Linked DNA regions of Homo sapiens: regions 2, 3 and 4 are each reported to be linked to region 1. The links are microRNA targets in miRTarBase. Many come from high-throughput screens and were not tested one by one. Region 1 holds a microRNA gene; each other region holds the end of a gene's coding sequence.

Region 1 (4,349 bases):
GGGCGGGGGGCTCCAGGAGCCACTGCAGGTAAAAGCTAAACCGTGGTGCTTGTTCTGCGCCATAAACTGGACTTCAGCCCAGCTTTAAGGAAATGACCAGGGTCTCTGGGTTGTGAGGCTGGGTTCCGTAGCAGCTATAATGCTTGGATTCAGGGATAGCCTGGGTCACACCATTGCCAGAGAAGAGGCAACCAATCCAGACCCCAAAAGCGGGTTCTTGGATCTCTTGCTGGAAAGAATTTCGAGGCAAGTCACAACACAATGAAAGAAGCAAGCTGAGGCCGGGCGCGGTGGCTCACGCCTGTAATCCCAGCACTTTGGGAGGCTGAGGTGGATGGATCACCTGAGATCACTATTTTTCTTTTTATTTTCTGAGATGGAGTTTCACTCTTGTTGCCCAGGCTAGAGTGCAATGGCACGATCTCGGCTCACAGCAACCTCTGCCTCCCGGGTTCAAGCCATTCTCCTGCCTCAGCCTCCGGAGTAGCTGGGATTACTGGCATGCGCCACCACGCCCAGCTAATTTTGTATTTTTAGTAGAGACGGGGTTTCTCCATGTTGGTCAGACTGGTCTCCAACTCCCAACCTCAGGTGATCCGCCCGTCTCGGCCTCACAAAGTGCTAGGATTACAGGCGTGAGCCACCGCACCCAGCCTGTTTTCTGCATTTTTAGTAGAGACAGAGTTTCACTATGTTGGCCAGGCTGGTCTCAAACTCCCGACCTTGTGATCTGCCCGCCTCGGATTCCCAAAGTGCTGGGATTACAGGCGTGAGCCACCGCGCCCGGCCTTATTTTTCTTTTTTTTTTTTTGAGACAGGATCCCACTCTATTGCCCAGCCTGGAGTGCAGTGCAGTGATCTCAGCTCACTGCAACCTCTGCCTCCCGGGTTCAAGCAATTCTCCTGCATCAGCCGCCCAAGTAGCTGAGATTACAGCCGTGCCTGGCTTATGTTTTGTGTTTTTAGTGGAGATGGGGTGCCACCATGCTGGCCAGGCTGGTCTTAAACTCCTGACCTCAGTTGATCCTCCCACCTCAGTCTCCCAAAGTGCTGGGATTACAGGTGTGAGCCACCGCGCCCAGCAAGCATAAGATTTTTTGACACATGGAGGATCACTTGCTGGATGTGCACTGAGAAGTAATGTGCCCATTTCCCAGCCACACTCTCCCAAAGGCTTTTACAGGCGCTGTCCCCGTGAGGTGGTAGAACAGAATGTCAGAATTCAACACATTCCAACACTGTCTTCTGTTGAGCTGTAGGAGGACTGCCTGTGGAGGGACATGGGTTCTATGCTACCTTGCAGGTTTTCCCTGGGGCTTGTGATCACTGTCTCCTTGGTGACATGCAATCTGGGAGTGCTTTCTGGAGTCTGATAAGAACATACTGGCACATTGCCTGTGACGTGTGGGACCCAGGCATTTTCAGTGCTGAGGTGAGTCCTTGATTGTAACTGATGGGGACTGGTATCTTAACTCCAGGTTACTGAAGACTAGGAATTTCTTGCCTTACAGTAAAATTGCAAAGAAGAGTAGCATAAGAGGTAGATCAGAAGACTGCAGAATAGATTAACAAATGAATGCCCAAATGAGGATGCTAAACTTGGATTTGCATCAAGAAGACAGATATTGGTCGGGCGTGGTGGCTCACGCCTGTAATCCCAGCACTTTGGGAGGCTGAGGCGGGTGGATCATCCTGGCTAACACGGTGAAACCCCGTCTCTACTAAAAAAATACAAAAAAATTAGCCGGGCGTGGTGGCAGGCGCCTGTAGTCCCAGCTGCTGGGGAGGCTGAGGCAGGAGAATGGCATGAACCCAGGAGGCGGAGCTTGTAGTGAGCCGAGATCGTGCCACTGCACTTCACCCTGGGCGACAGAGCGAGACTCTGTCTCAAAAAAAAAAAGGACAGGTATTAGGATAGTTTTGAAGCCCACTTGCTCCTATCATGGCATTGAAGCATCAGTTTGCTGCCAATCACTCCTTCTTCTGTGTTCATAGACAGGACTGTGGAAATGTACACTTGGATTCTTTCACAGGTAATGCTGAGAAATTTAAAACCAAAAACGGCCGGGTGCCGTGGCTCCTGCCTGTAATTCTAGCACTTTGGGAGGCTGAGGCGGGCGGATCACAAGGTCAGGAGTTCGAGAGCAGCCTGGCCAATATGGTGAAACCCCATCTCCACTAAAAATACAAAAATTAGCCTGGCATAGTGGCGGGCCCCTGAAGTCCCAGCTACTCAGGAGACTGAGTAGACGAGGAGAATGGCTTGAACATGGGGTGCAGAGGTTGCAGTGAGCTGAGATCGCACCGCTGCACTCCAGCCTGGGCAACAAGAGTGAAACTCTGTCTCAAAAAAAAAAAAAAATTTGAAATTAAAGTGTATGATTAGAGTGCATGATTGGTTCTGACTGGATGTGTAACATGTGCATAGCCTTCTCATAAATCAAAGGTTTTTATGTGAAACCTACCACTAGTGATGTAACTGAATTTGTGTAAATGCTGGTGTGTCTGCCTTTTCCTAGCAACTCCCTGGGCAGCCTGAGGATTCTTTGAGGTTATTTTTTTTCAAGATCTGGCTGGGAGCTTCTGCATGAGTGCTGTGTGAACGTCCTCCATCTGCAGTGTGAGGACAGCGAACCCTAGTGTGAGTTAACCACGTAGGAAGAGTTTGAAGTCAGACATGACATTCAGACTGAGGTCCTCAAAACTGAGGGGCATTTTCTGTGGTTTGAAAGGAAAGTGCACCCAGTTTTGGGGATGTCAATTGTGAATCCTCATCATAACCCATCCCCAGTCCCCCATCGCATTGCACCACATGGATGCACCCAGTGGACTGGCCTTTGCTTTTCTATTGTTTCTTTTTCTCTCCACTGCAATCAGCTTTCTCACGTTGAATGCATTCCATTTTCTAAGCGCTCTCCTAGGCAAAAATCCCTCTAATGCAAAGCAAAAATGTCTGTTATGCAACATTGTTCTGAGACCCCAGGAATTGCAGTTAACTTGGCTCCTTAGTATGTGCTTCCTAAGGCGGGTGGGGTGGCTCGCGCCTGTAGTCCCAGCACTTTGGGAGGCAGGCGAGGCACTTGAAACCCTGTCTCTACTAAAAATACAAAAATTAGCTGGACATGGTGGCATGTGCCTGTAATCCCAGCTACTTGGGAGGTGCAGACAGGAGCATCGCTTGAACCCAGGAGGCAGAGGTTGCAGTGAGCCAAGATAATGGCACTGTACTGCAACCTGGGTGACAGAGCGAGACTCAAAAAAAAAAAAAAGTGCTTCCTGTGAAGGTTTCCTTTCCCTTCTGCCCCCCATACCAGTCCATCTATTTAGTAGATGTCCTGGTTTCTACCCAGGATATCATGGACCAGGGGTTCTGTCTTCCAGCCTTGAGTACAATGGTGCGACTATAGCTCACTGCAGTCTCAACCTCCTGGGCTCAAGTGATCATCCTGCCTCAGCCTCCAAGTAGCTGGTATTACAGATGCACGTGCCCCCATTCCCAGAGGTTCTTAAATTTATGACAAAAACCCAGAAGCTTGGCTGAAGCAGCTTGTTGGGGCCCACCCACAGATTTTGTTTGGTGCCATAGACCTGGGTTGGGATCTGGGGAGCCATTTTTCTTAGTCTCAATGTAAATGTCTAAGCATTTTCTTTTTTTCTTTCTTTTTTTTTTTTTGAGACAGGGTTTCGCTCTTGTTGCCTAAACTGGAGTGCAGTGGCACAATCTCGGCTCACTGCAACCTCTGCCTCCTGGGTTCAAGTGATTCTCCTGCCTCAGCCTCCCAAGTAGCTGGGATTACAGGTGTGCACCACCATGCCCGGCTAATTTTTTTTTATTTTTTTATTTTTTTTATTTTTTGAGATGGAGTCTTGCTCTGTTGCCCAGGCTGGAGTGCAGTGGTGTGATCTCGGATCACTGCAAGCTCCGCCTCCTTGATTCATGCCATTCTCCTGCCTCAGCCTCCCGACTAGCTGGGACTACAGGTGCCCGCCACCACGCCCAGCTAATTTTTTTGTATTTTTAGTAGAGACGGGGTTTCACTGTGTTAGCCAGGGTGGTCTCGGTCTCCTGATCTCGTGATCTGCCTGCCTCGGCCTCCCAAAGTGCTGGGATTACAGGCTTGAGTCACTGCCCCTGGCCAATTTTTTGTATTTTTAGTAGAAATGGAGTTTCACCATGTTTCCTGCCTATCTCTCTATGTATTTAGACAGGGTCTCACTATGTTGCCCAGGTTGGTCTCAAACTCCTGGACTCAAGCAATCCTCCTGCCTCCACCTTCCAAAGTGCTGGGACTACAGGCTTGAGCCATCCTGCCTGACCATTTGAGAGTTTTTTTTTTTTGAGATGGAGT
Region 2 (4,000 bases), not on the chromosome of region 1:
CATCAGAAGTGAAATACAAGAGGAGCCCTCCTTTTGAGAATCCCAAATTTAGCATCCATTCCCACCTGACAGCTTCCAGTTAGCTCATCCCACTGAGACAGCAGCAATTTATTAATTACCCTAGAAGAAGTTTCCCAATTATACGTTATGCAGCACCAGAAAAAAATGTTACTAAGGATTTTTTATCTACCTCCTCTCCTGCTTTCTAACCCTGAAATGAAAACTGCATTCTTGAATGATTGCAGGACATTTTCTTAGATTTCATGGCATATTGAGAAACTTGTGTTCTGAATTTTATCCCAAATTAAAATGTTTTTACTTTTAAATCTTACTTCCACTACTGCAGTGTAATCAGACTATCAATCTGAAATCCCTCAATTATTAAATCAGAAATCACTCAATTATTACCGTCAGATCTAACCCCTTTACCTGCACTGCCATGCCTACTATTCTGAATTTCTATTGAGCCAACTCAATTCTTACTTTGCAGGGCCCAGGGTTAAGTAATGTCACACTGACTATAAGCATATCATCTGATAAATGGCCTTTAAAAACACTAGCCCCTTTCCCAAAAAGCCTGTACTTATCTGCATTAGATCAGATTTTTAAAAGCCTTTTACCATGTGGTATTTCAATCCTGGTCTCTTTACTTTGCTACAGTTTTGGCCTAGGAACCTAAATGTCAAAGTACTCAATGAGTACACCTGTGATTATAGAAAACCTAGAGTACTGTTGTCTTAAACACGAGGAAATTTAAGCCACAGTAGCGTAGCCTAAAACCAAGAGCGTGAAATGACTTCCCCATCAACACAAACTAGACATGTCAGTATTCCAACAACCCTACCATATGTGTGTATAGATTTTCAATCTGTGATCATGCTCTACGGCTATTTGCAAAAGTAACTGCAGCTAATTAAAAGTAATGGCAAAAGCCACAATTACTTTTGCACCAACCTAATATTAAAAAGCGCTCTCCACAGCTTCATTCAATACCTGCTTTCCTAGAATAAAATGTATAGTTGGCCCCCCATGTTCATGGGTTCTGCACATGCAGATTCAGCCAACTACAGATCGAAAATACTAGCAAAGAAAAAAAACTAAAAAAAGTTAACAAAAATATAAATAAAAAAAGTTACAACTATTTACATACCATTTACATTTTATCAGGTATTTTAATGTAGAGATGATTTAAAATATACAGGAGAATATGCATAGGTTACATATAAATACTATGCCATTTTATGTAAGGGACTTGAACATCTGCAGATTGTGGTGTTCACAGCTAAACAGACTGCTCTGTGCAGGGAGAGGCCCTACAGTGAAGGGAAAAGTAGACACTTGATTGTGGACTAATTTGTTCAGTATTTCCCAAAAACTTACAGCTAACAATAATATTAAACAGGTTTTATTAGCATCTTATACATCTGACACTCTCTCCTAAGCATCCAGTTTATTTTCTAGTCACGGGTTACTTACTAAAAGTCTGTGTAACATGAGCTCACATCAGATTAGAAAACATCAAGTGGGTAGTATTTTTGACTGAATTAACATACAAAAGAAATTGCCTATATCATGTATATGGGCTCCAAGGGTAGTTCATACTTCAGCCTCTTCATTCTTTTCTGCTTTTGTCACCTGTTACAGAAAATGATCTATAAAATCCTCATAAATAAGACATGAGTTTTGCCTGTAATGAGTAGGATGAAAAAAGGCCAGTGCCGCATGCTATGAAACAATAGCAACTTTACAGGGGAATCCAAGGTTTGTGTGCACAAAAATTATAAGCGGCATTTTCTGCTATGCTGGAAAAACTGAAGTATAAAACACAAATGAACTAAGCCTTTCAAGGATGAGGTATCACCAACACTGGTAGCTGTTTAATATATTCATCTTACAACTGGATGCTAAAAATGCAATCACTGTAATTAATAAAGTTGAGGAAAACACAAAGATTAGCTAACAGGGGTAAAAGATCATTTAGAGTAAAATAAATGTGTAACATTCTCTATGTTCTCAATCACCTGGGAAGGCAGTCTATGGAATATCAGGAAGTAAGAGTTTTCTTGTTTTCAGGAACATGGAGGTATATACACTTCAGAATTCAGAAGGTAACTGGGGCTATAAATAGTAATTAAAAGAACAAAATAGAAGCAGGGGGGTTCCATTATGCAGCTGTCGCCATTTTCCTGAAATCTTGATGTTTTTGAGCCTCTCCTATTTAAGGACAAAACCATTTAGCACAAAACACAAACCTCAGAAAGGGTGCCAGCTGGACCACAAAGCACTGATGAAAAGGCAGAGAGGATATACTTCCCAAACTTTCATTAGGATGTAAAAGCCATTTTGAAAAAGTCTCCACTCTATGTCAAGTTGACTCCTCAATGCAACATGCATCTCAATGAAATATAATTTGAGTAGTGTTGTGTTGGTATGCATCATGATTATGACTCCAAGAAAAATATATCTAGTGCATTCTAGAGGTTTTGTGGAGGACGCTGTAAAACAAAGTTTGAAGTAAACAATAATAAAATACAAAAATAAAAAACCAGGGTTTTTTTTTTCTCCAAATTCCTGGTTTAATAAGGACTTGTTTATTTTGAGGAAAAAAGGTCCCAAACATCAGGCTGTTCACAAAAATAACCCACAGTATCAACTTTAGAAAACAAATCTTAAGACTATAACACTAATTATTTTTCTAGAGGATGCATTTGACATGCCAACTCTCATTCACAAAAATACATTGTTACATTTGTGTTGAACTGCCCCACACAGCACACTAATGTGAGGGTGTAACACACATACTTCTAACTCAAAGCTGCTTTCAAGAGCTACTCAACTAAATGAGATTGCCTTTGCAGTTAGGGAAGCAACTACTGAACTTATGTATGAATGAAAAGAACTGTACTCCCTGCATAACAAGAGATTATTTTGGAGACAGTTGATAAAAACCATACATCCTTTTTATTGTTAAGTCATAAAGAGGTATCAAAATTAAAAGCAAAAATTACAGGGTAAGACTTAACAAAACTACTAGGAGCGTCAAAGGAAGTGAAAATGGGACTAGGCGCGGGGCAATATGAATTAATGAACATGGGAAGGACAAGGATGGGGAGAACAGTGAGCATGTGCTGAAGATACTAGGGGAGAGGATCTGGTGAAAAATTTGATCTTAGACAAGCGCCTAGGTAAAGAAATAATGGGATAAGATTTCTAAACCCCACTATGTGCTTAAGAGTCATCCTCGCCATTGGCGCTGTCTCTGTCATCCTCTCCTTCCTCAGCCTCTTTTTCATCATCCTTGATCAACTCCAGCTGTGAGAAACAGACACAAACAGGATGGAGTTAGAGGCACTCCATGTGTCCCTGAGCCCCCCTCCACCACCTTTTTCTTTCCTTTCCCGTGGTTTTCACCTGGTCATCCCCCCGATCTTCATTATCATCATCATCCAGTAGGTCCCCCTCCTCAGCAGAGTCATCTGCACCCCCCTCAGACTCCATCTTCACATTAGTCTCATCTTTCTTCACGGAGCTGCTGCTCTGCTCCTCTTCTGACTTATCATTCTTCATCTCTACTGCGGATGAGAAGGACAAGTCTGTCTAGGGGCAGTAATGTCCACAGGACGTAGACAATCCCCACTAAGGATCACAGAACTGCAGCACAAATCTAAATCCTCCCACACAAATACCCTTCCCAATTCACACTCCCCAAGTTTCATATTACATTGCTTTATATTCCACTATTCCAACATGTACTTTCAAGTGCCTTATGTAACTAACCCAACTGTATACCAAGGGCAAGCAGAAAACCCATTTACCTGCTTGTTTGCTCTGTTCCTTTTCAATTTTTTCCAGGTTTTCCAGGAGAGAATCCACTTTTTGTTTTATCTGGGTCAGCTCCTTCTTAATGGCCTGAAGGTCATCTCCTTTCACTTTAATATAAACAAAATACTAGATTAAAATCAAATGTACCGAAGATATGAGTTAGCAAATACACTGCCAC
Region 3 (4,000 bases), not on the chromosome of region 1:
AAAGCACAGATTTATTTTTTTCTTCTTAAAGCAGATGTTTAAACATGGTTTAACAAGGCCCTTCACAACTTAACCCTAGCCTACCTTTCTAGCCTTCTCTTTTGTAACTCTCTACCCAAGACACACTGAAATGTTTCATTTCTCTAAGCATTGCTCTCCCTTGCTTCCAGCCAGACCTTTGCTTTGGAGGATGTGCTAGGATCTTAGTCATAGGACTTGTGCCCATGAGGTTTTTAGCCTAGGCAAGAAGCTGATTTGTGGGCTTGATATTTCATTGAGAACAACTGCTTCTCAGTGTAGGAAATAGTGAAGACTAGGTTGAAAGCACGTGCTCACAACATTTCTGAGACCCCTAGGGTGCCCATGTCCTTGGACAGATGAGTGATTAGGTTTTGGGGATGCTTCAGATACTGAGTCAGGAACTGACTGACAAACTACGTAATTGTTTCCTGCTCAGGTCCGGGCAGCTCCCCCTCCACCTACACAGAATCACCGAAGGCCAGCAGAGAAGATTGAAGATGTGGAAATCACACTGGTGTGATGATGGGCTTGCCCATCCATTACTGCTACAATCAAGGCCAGGCTTGGAGTTTGGCCAGTCTTGTTTTTTAGGCACCTTTGCATGATGATGACTCTTGAACAGAGCAAAAAACAAGGAGGATTATGTGTGACTGGGTGGCCTGGTAGACTCCTCCCACGTTTTGAATATTTCGTGCCTTTTTTTTTTGTTGTCATTTTCTATGTCATTTCTCCTACCATAGCACAAATCCTAGCGGACCCTAGGAGCAAAGAGGGGGGCAGCCCTCATGCCTAACAGTGGTCTGTTTTTATATGAGACTCAAGAACAGGCCTCATTCCAGGGCACAGTCCCTAAATTACTGATCATGTGCACTCGTACAGTATATTACTGTGACCACAAGGATGTGGCAAAGATTCTCATCTTTCTTCAAGTGGCTTTTGCTCATCTGATTGAGAATTAATCAGATCATGTTGGCTACATAAGGAAACAGAAGGAGGGATTTCAGGAGAGGCTGGCTCCTCCCCAAGGTTAGTCCCCAGACTGAGAAAGTGAAACCTTATTGGGAAAAATTGGACTGCCCTGAATTTAGCACCAATTGCATTAACGCACATCTCTTCCACAACTAACAGACTTAAAATAACAGTGTCCTTCGTATTAATATCTGTGCCATTCATTTAGAATTAGCAGAGCTAATATGGAGGGGCTGAACTAGTAGCCACATCTTGTTCATCACATAGACTAATAGAAAGGAGGCTGTGGCTAAAGCAGAAATGGAACTTCCGGATCTGAAATTAGCCAATATAATGTTCTTTTGTATTTGGGTATTTTTCATCTTAATTTTTACAGCATATACTCTTCTTACCAGTATCCTTAGAATCCAAATGTCTAGATAAGTTGAGGACACATACCTGCATTGTTGAGCTTCTCTACTGGGGACGCCCCGGCATTATTTTATTCCCAAGCCAGCAGACCGGCCCAGACAGCCAGGCTGTGGCTGGTCCAGACCAACTGCTATGGTGGAAAATGCAGCTTCCAGGTCCCACTACCCTGACATTTCCGTGGAAGGAAGAACCTGGTGGCTCGTGGAGGAAACCAGCTTTCTATGAGAAAGGACTGAAGGATTGCGCACCCTGCACAAGTACAGATTGACCAGGAAAAGACAAGTGTCTTCTGTGTGTCACAGGGAAAGCCAGGAGTGGCCTTCTCTGCAGGCCAGCAAGCCTGCAGCAGCAGGTGCCCCCACGTCAGGTGCTGACTGTCTGCTGTCCGCTCCTGTAGAAGGTAGGGAGCACAATACCTAGGGACTAAGGGATGTTCGCCGGTTGTGGTTTGTTTTTTTTTTTTTTCCTTGGTTAAGAAATCAAATTTGCAGAATTTAATCTACAAGTTGTATTATGCTTTGAAAACTCCATCCCTCCTAAGAATCTTAAAAAACTTGAAATGCTCGCCAAATGTCCCCATGGGATTTTTGACCAAAAGTAAGGTGATAACTGAAGAAATTTTTAGTTCTTTGATCACTTCAGTGACAATACCCATTAATGAATCTTCTCCATGATTTGGGGTTTTTTTTCGTTGTTGTTTTTTACACTTCTTAACCTGTTGATCTATTTGAGGTCTTTTGTGTTTATCAAACTTATTCTTAAGTTTAAAAAAGAAATTAAAAGGGTGGTTTTTTTAAGATTTTAAAGTTTGCTAACATATTAAAAATCTTCAAATGCTTATTAAATAGAGCAGTTCTTGCCACCCAGTCTTGTATTCTGTCTTTAGCTAGCCAAATTGTCCTTGAATTTGGGTTTTCCACAACCTCAAAGGGTTATTTGAAATCTTTTGTTGTATTTTAAAATATTTTTTGGAAGAGCTGCTAATTTTATTTTAAAAAACAAAGTTGTGAAAACATGCCTCCTTTTTAAAAAATAACCCCTCCATCCAGGATATGGAATCCAGCACCACAGTGCACAGGTCAGGGCTCGGAGGGAGCCTCTGTGCAGATGTGCTTTCTTTACAGTGGCTGTAAAAAGTTTGTATTTATTATGTATAAAATGTTGAATAATAAAAAAAATGGAATTATGTTTTCTAAGTTTTAATATAGAAAGGTTTGGGTAAACAGACCTTTCCAAAAGGCCCATGCTTCTTATAAAAACATTCCTGGGCCCTCCTTTAAACCAGCTAACAGACAGAGAGAGGAGAAAGTAAATTAATCCATCTATGAGACAGACAGTCCCTGAAGCCCCCATGTGCTAGGTGTAATATCCTGGGTACTAGAGATGGCAGTAAATAGGTTACGGTCTTTGCTTTTCCCATGGGAAAAAAAAGAAATACGTGAGGACAGTACTGTGGGACATGTGCTAGAAGGGAGGGGCAGATAGCATAGAGGCAGCTGAGGAGGGAGCTCTGATTCTGCTGCTGGAGGGGTGAGAGGAAGGTCACTGAAGTCCCCTTGCCGGATGTGACCACTGGCTTCCAGGAAGCGGGCATTCTGGATGCCTCTCCCCTTTCCTAAACCTCCACCCTAAGGAGTAATGAATTGTGTGAAAGGAGATTTTCTCGGTCCCAGGGGTGGATGGAGCATTCTTAGTCAAAGGCTGAGTCCCCCTGGCTTCCAGCCAGCCACACTGAGGACCAGGACACAGCCTGTTTGGGGAAGGGCCCCACAAGCTCTCCTCTTTCCTGGAGCTGGGGACATGCAGTAAGCATTTTTCCAGACATTATCCTGTGCATAAGACTCTTAAGTGTACACACTGCTTGTTTACATAAAAATGTGTTCAGCCGGGCGCAGTGGCTCATGCCTGTAATCCCAGCACTTTGGGAGGCCGAGGCGGGCAGATCACTTGAGGTCAGGAGTTTGAGACCAGCCTGACCAACATGGAGAAACCCAGTCTCTACCGAAAATACAAAATTGGCTGGGCATGGTAGCTCATGCCTGTAATCCCAGTTACTCTGGAGGCTGAGGCAGGAGAATCGCTTGAACCTGCGAGGCAGAGGTTGCGGTGAGCTGAGATTGTGCCATTACACTCCAGTCTGGGGAACAAGAGTGAAACTCTGTCTCAAAAAAAAAAAAAAAAAATATGTTCCAGTATAAATGTTGGGTAGATTCCTAAGTGTGGAATTTGAGGGTCAAAAAGGTATGTATTTAATTTTGTTAGATTTTGCCAAATTGGCTTCCTATAAGGACTATATCCATTTACACTCCCACCAACCGCATATGGACTTAGGAGCCAGGAGGTCTGGGTTAAATCCTGGCTCTGCCACTTGACAGCCATGGGGACTGAGCCTGTGTCCTCATCTGGAACCTGAGAATAAGACTGTGGTTCCAGGAAGGCCATATAAAGTGTGCCACAGGCTGGTCACCACGAACTCTTCTCACCACCACCTCTCCTCACCACCACCTCTCCTCACCACCACCTCTCCTGCCTTTTCTCACCACCACCTCTCCTGCCTCTTCTCAGTGTCCTTCCCTCCAGAACTAGGGTCCTTGATAGT
Region 4 (4,000 bases), not on the chromosome of region 1:
TCGGCTCCCGGGAGGGCCGGGGCCCCGCCGGCGGCCCCGCGGTGCCGGGTGCATGACGGTACTGTCCCTCTCCCTCCCCCGGTGCAGGCGGCAGACGGCGGAGGAGCGGGAGGCGGAGCGGCAGCAGGCGAGCCGGCTCATGCTGCAGCTGCAACACGACGCCTTCCAAAAGAGCCTCAACGACTCCATCCAGCCTGACCCGCTCTGTCTGCACAACTCGTCACTCTTTGCTCTGCAGAATCTGCAGCCCTGGGAGGAGGATAGTTCCAAGGTTCCCGCTGTCACCTCCCTGGTGTGAGCCCACCAGCGCGCACCGTCGCCACGGATCGCCGCCCCCACCCAGCCGGGCGCCCCGGACCCCCCAGGCGGGCTGCGGGGGAACCGGCGCCGAGAGGGGAAGGGGCCGCCTAGCCCGAGTAGGCCCCAGGGCGCGGCCACAGACTGGCGGGCCGCGGAAGGGGGTAGGGCCCGAGCTCCGCGCGGCCGCACAATCCGAGCCCCCGCCCCGCGCCCCGTCCCGCCCCAGGCCCGGGCCTGACAAGAAAGCGCCTTACGTTTCTCCGCCCCCCGCCCGCACCCCCCGGGCCGGGCGCCTGTATTATACTTTGTACTTTTGCCCAAACGTGTAAATAATAAAAAAGTTTTGGCTTTTTTCTTTAGAAACCGGCCACCTGCTTCCCCCGCGGGGGCCGCTGGAGGAAGGGCAGCCGACCCGGCCGCTGGGGGAAGTGCCAGGGGCCCGGGGCACCCTGCGTTTAGGCTGGGTCCACTCTTCTTCTTTTCCGTTCCTTTTATTTAAGTCTTTTTATTTAATAAAAAAGTTAGCTATTTCACTTAACGCCGCTTTTATTTCGTTTTCGTTCCAATAATGCTCGGCGACCCCCGGCCCTGCGCCCCACCCCTGCGGCGGTAGAAGCCGAGCGGCGGCGCGCAGGGCGCGTCCACTTCCGCAACGTTCGTCTGCATTCGCCTCGGCTGCAACCCCGGCCCGGGCCCCCGAGGAGGATGCGCGGTGCAGGTCAGTTGGTGCCGGCCACCCGCAGCCTGGGTGCGCACGGGATGGGGACTGGACATGGGAAAGGTGCTCCAGGCCCGAAGGCCGCGGGCCAGCGCCGGGGCGGGCTGGGGAGTGAAAGGCTGGGCCTGGGCAGATGCCTAGGCCGTCCCCAGGTCAAATCCACCTGGGGGGTGGGAGGCAGGGTGGCCTCGAACTTCTTAGAGCTCAAGTCGGAACTCGGAGCCCCACTTCACCCCGCAACTCGCTTTCCGCCCTCTTTTTCCCGCGGAGCCTCAGAGAGGACCTGGCTCTGGCCAGTCTGCGCGCGCTGTGGGCAGGCTTTGCGCGCAGAGCCGCTGCAAATCCTCGGTCTCCAAACGCCTGGGGAGCAAATGCAGCGCACAACCCTAGGGGCCCTCTCCTTGTCGGGTTTGCGTGGGACCCCAGGTGGAGCGTGACGTCATGTGACGTCACCGCAGCCCCCGCGGTGTCACTGGGCTGGAGTGGGCGGGGCGCCCGGAACTCAGAACTCTAAGCGCTGGTGTGGTAGCGTCGTGGCCGGGGTCCACCCAGCTCCACCGTGGCTCAAGAGCTGGAAGTTTCAGAATTGCGAGGTTTGGAGCGGCTGACCCCTTCCAGTCACATCTAACACACAAAGCCCGTGAACACTTCCTCTAGTTCTTTGATTTTTCCCCCTCTTTTATCATTCTCGCTTTCAGTCTTCTGAAAACTTACTTTCTGGCCTCTCCGTTTCTTTCTCTACAATGTTCCCTGTTTTCTCCTCTGTATGTTACTCTGGGTCTCTGTTTTACTATATCTTTCTCCTTTTCTTTACAGATTTATGATGTTTCCCAGTATAGTTCGTCCTCTATTGCTTTTCATTGCCCTCAGCCTTTTCTTGTTCCGTCGTCTCCTCCTTCTTCTCTCCCCAGTTCTGACTCTTGGCCTCTGTGTGTCTCTGGGTTTCTTTGTCTCCCTCCTCTCCACGGTCCTCTTGTCCTTTTGTCTTCCCTTTCTTGTTTCTTGAATCTCTTTGCCTTTATGTATCTGTCTTTCTCTCTCTCTCTCTCTCTCTCTCTCTCTCTCTCTCTCTTCTTTCCTTTCTCCCTGACTCCCTCTCTCCCTCTTCCAGGCCCAGCTCCCAGTAGCTCCTAAGGCAAAACACTTTCGGGGCCGCGTCCCAGAGCACCCCTCCCACTCCACGAGCACCCCCACCCGCCTCATCCCACTGCCTCCCTCGGAGCCGGAGCCGTGCGCCACCCTGCAGGTTCCCGTGCTCCGAGCCTTCGTTCTATGCGGGCTGCGGGACTGTATTCACCTGCAGGGCTGGAGGAAGGGGAGGGCGCCTGAGAAACACCTTGAACCCCCAGCGCTCCCGCCGTCACCTCCACCTCCAAGCCCAGCTAGCCTGGGATCTGCGCCTTTCAGGACATAAAGACACCCAGGGAGGGACTAGGGTGACTCAGAACTTCGGGTCTCTTCCGTGAGTGTTTTCCTGAAATGCTTTTATTTTCTCCAATAAAAAGCCTGATGAACGCCGTCATCGGGTTGGGAAAGGTTGGCCCTTCGGCTGAGGACTAGAGGGACCCTTGACTTTGCTGGCGGAGAAGCGCTTTCCTCAGAGACGGGTGTCGCGGTCCAGCTCCCTTCCGTTCCGTTTTATTCTGTTGCTCCATAATAAGGCCTAGCGGGGTTTTTTTTCTTAATTGTTTTTATTTCAACGCGCTTTTGGGGAACAGATGGTCAGGTGGCGTTTGGTTACATGAATAAGTTCTTTAGTGGTGATTTCTGAGATTTTGGGGCGTCCATCACCCGAGCAGTGTACACTCTACTCAATGTGTAGTCTTTTATCCCTCGCCCCTCCACCCTCCCCCACAGGCCCCAAAATCCAACGTATCATTCTTTCTTTCTTTTTTTCTGAGACGGAGTCTCCCTTTGTCGCCAGGCTAGAGTGCAGTGGCGCGATCTCGGCTCACTGCAACCTCCGCCTCCTGGGTTCAAGCGATTCTCCTGCCTCAGCCTCCGGAGTACCTGGGACTACAGGCGCGAGTCACCACGCCTGGCTAATTTTTTATATTTTTAGTAGAGACGGGGTTTCACCATGTTGGCCAAGATGGTCTCCATCTCTTGACCTCGTGATCCGCTCGCCTCGGCCTCCCAAAGTGCTGGGATTACAGGCGTGAGCCCCCGCCCCCGGCCCAACGTATCATTCTTATAAGGCCTAGTATTTTTGTTTTTCAAAATTACTTCTGTTGTTTTGCCAGGGTGACACTCAATTCTTTGGGCCTCTTTGGAGACACACGCACGTTGTTTTTTTTTCTTTCTGTTGGGCGCCTCGCTTTGCGCAGAAGGCCTCTGGCCCGGAGGCCCGTCCGGGGTAGGCGTCCAGGCAGGCCGGGGGTGGGGGGCCGGTCTGGCTTCGGCCCTCGGGGGGCGCCTGGCTTTCCCGCACCTAGTGCCTTCGCGGCGTTTGGCGTCTTCCAGCGCTTTGCCCTCACCCAGCCTTGCCCAGCCAGAGACGGGCTACGGGTCTTTTCCTGTTACAGAGCTGAGCCCACTCATGTGGTGCCAAGTAGCGACTATCTCTCGGCCACCTCCACCCAGAGCAATGTGGGCGCCCCCAGCGGGTGGGAGCGATTGCCGAGCGGCGCAAGGGCGTTTAACGCCTAACCCCCTCCTCCTGGGTTGCCAAGCCGCTAGGTCGCCGTTTCCAACGTGGCTGCGCGGGACTGAAGTCCGACGACTCCTCGTCCTCAGTAGGAGACACACCTCCCACTGCCCCCAGCCACGCGAGCTATGGGCAGAATCGGGGCAACGGTAATATCTGGATGGGGCAGGCTCCCCTGAGGCTGTGCTTAAGAAAAAAGGAATCTGGAGTAGCCTGAGGGGCCCCACGAGGGGGCCTCCTTTGCGATCGTCTCCCAGCCTTAGGCCAAGGCTACGGAGGCAGGCGGCCGAGTGTTGGCGCCCAGCCCGGCCGAGGACTGGATGGAGGACGAGAAG

Evidence for each region. Region 1 holds the annotated microRNA hsa-miR-1323 (UCAAAACUGAGGGGCAUUUUCU, at 2,699-2,720, shown strand). A microRNA usually pairs through its seed, bases 2 to 8, with sites in the 3' UTR of a target mRNA and lowers its output. Matches are read on the target gene's strand: a 7mer-m8 pairs with bases 2 to 8, a 7mer-A1 pairs with bases 2 to 7 and ends in A, and an 8mer does both.
Region 2: the mRNA of HNRNPC is a reported target of hsa-miR-1323. Seed matches in the 3' UTR shown: 7mer-m8 at 3,023-3,029.
Region 3: the mRNA of FCHSD2 is a reported target of hsa-miR-1323. Seed matches in the 3' UTR shown: 7mer-A1 at 699-705.
Region 4: the mRNA of TLX3 is a reported target of hsa-miR-1323. Seed matches in the 3' UTR shown: 7mer-m8 at 640-646.

Annotation. Positions count from the first base shown.
Region 1 is chr19:53,669,280-53,673,628 of GRCh38, forward strand. MIR1323 (microRNA 1323) reads left to right here and starts at 2,689; the gene lies at 2,689-2,761. All of the region lies in intron 2 of LOC107985342 (a long non-coding RNA gene), which reads left to right. RefSeq lists an enhancer at 1-765.
Region 2 is chr14:21,207,995-21,211,994 of GRCh38, forward strand. It overlaps HNRNPC (heterogeneous nuclear ribonucleoprotein C), which reads right to left. Exons shown (of 9, transcript NM_004500.4): 7 at 3,816-3,929; 8 at 3,412-3,572; 9 at 1,153-3,312. The coding sequence ends at 3,229. Among named protein-coding and RNA genes, the nearest start is that of LINC00641, 3.1 kb to the left of the region's middle.
Region 3 is chr11:72,835,332-72,839,331 of GRCh38, reverse strand. FCHSD2 (FCH and double SH3 domains 2) reads left to right here. Exons shown (of 20, transcript NM_014824.3): 20 at 458-2,587. The coding sequence ends at 541. It also overlaps a transcript of ATG16L2 not described here. Among named protein-coding and RNA genes, the nearest start is that of ATG16L2, 23 kb to the right of the region's middle.
Region 4 is chr5:171,311,302-171,315,301 of GRCh38, forward strand. It overlaps TLX3 (T cell leukemia homeobox 3), which reads left to right. Exons shown (of 3, transcript NM_021025.4): 3 at 88-838. The coding sequence ends at 298. Among named protein-coding and RNA genes, the nearest start is that of TLX3, 4.1 kb to the left of the region's middle. RefSeq lists enhancers at 1-95, 1,866-2,750.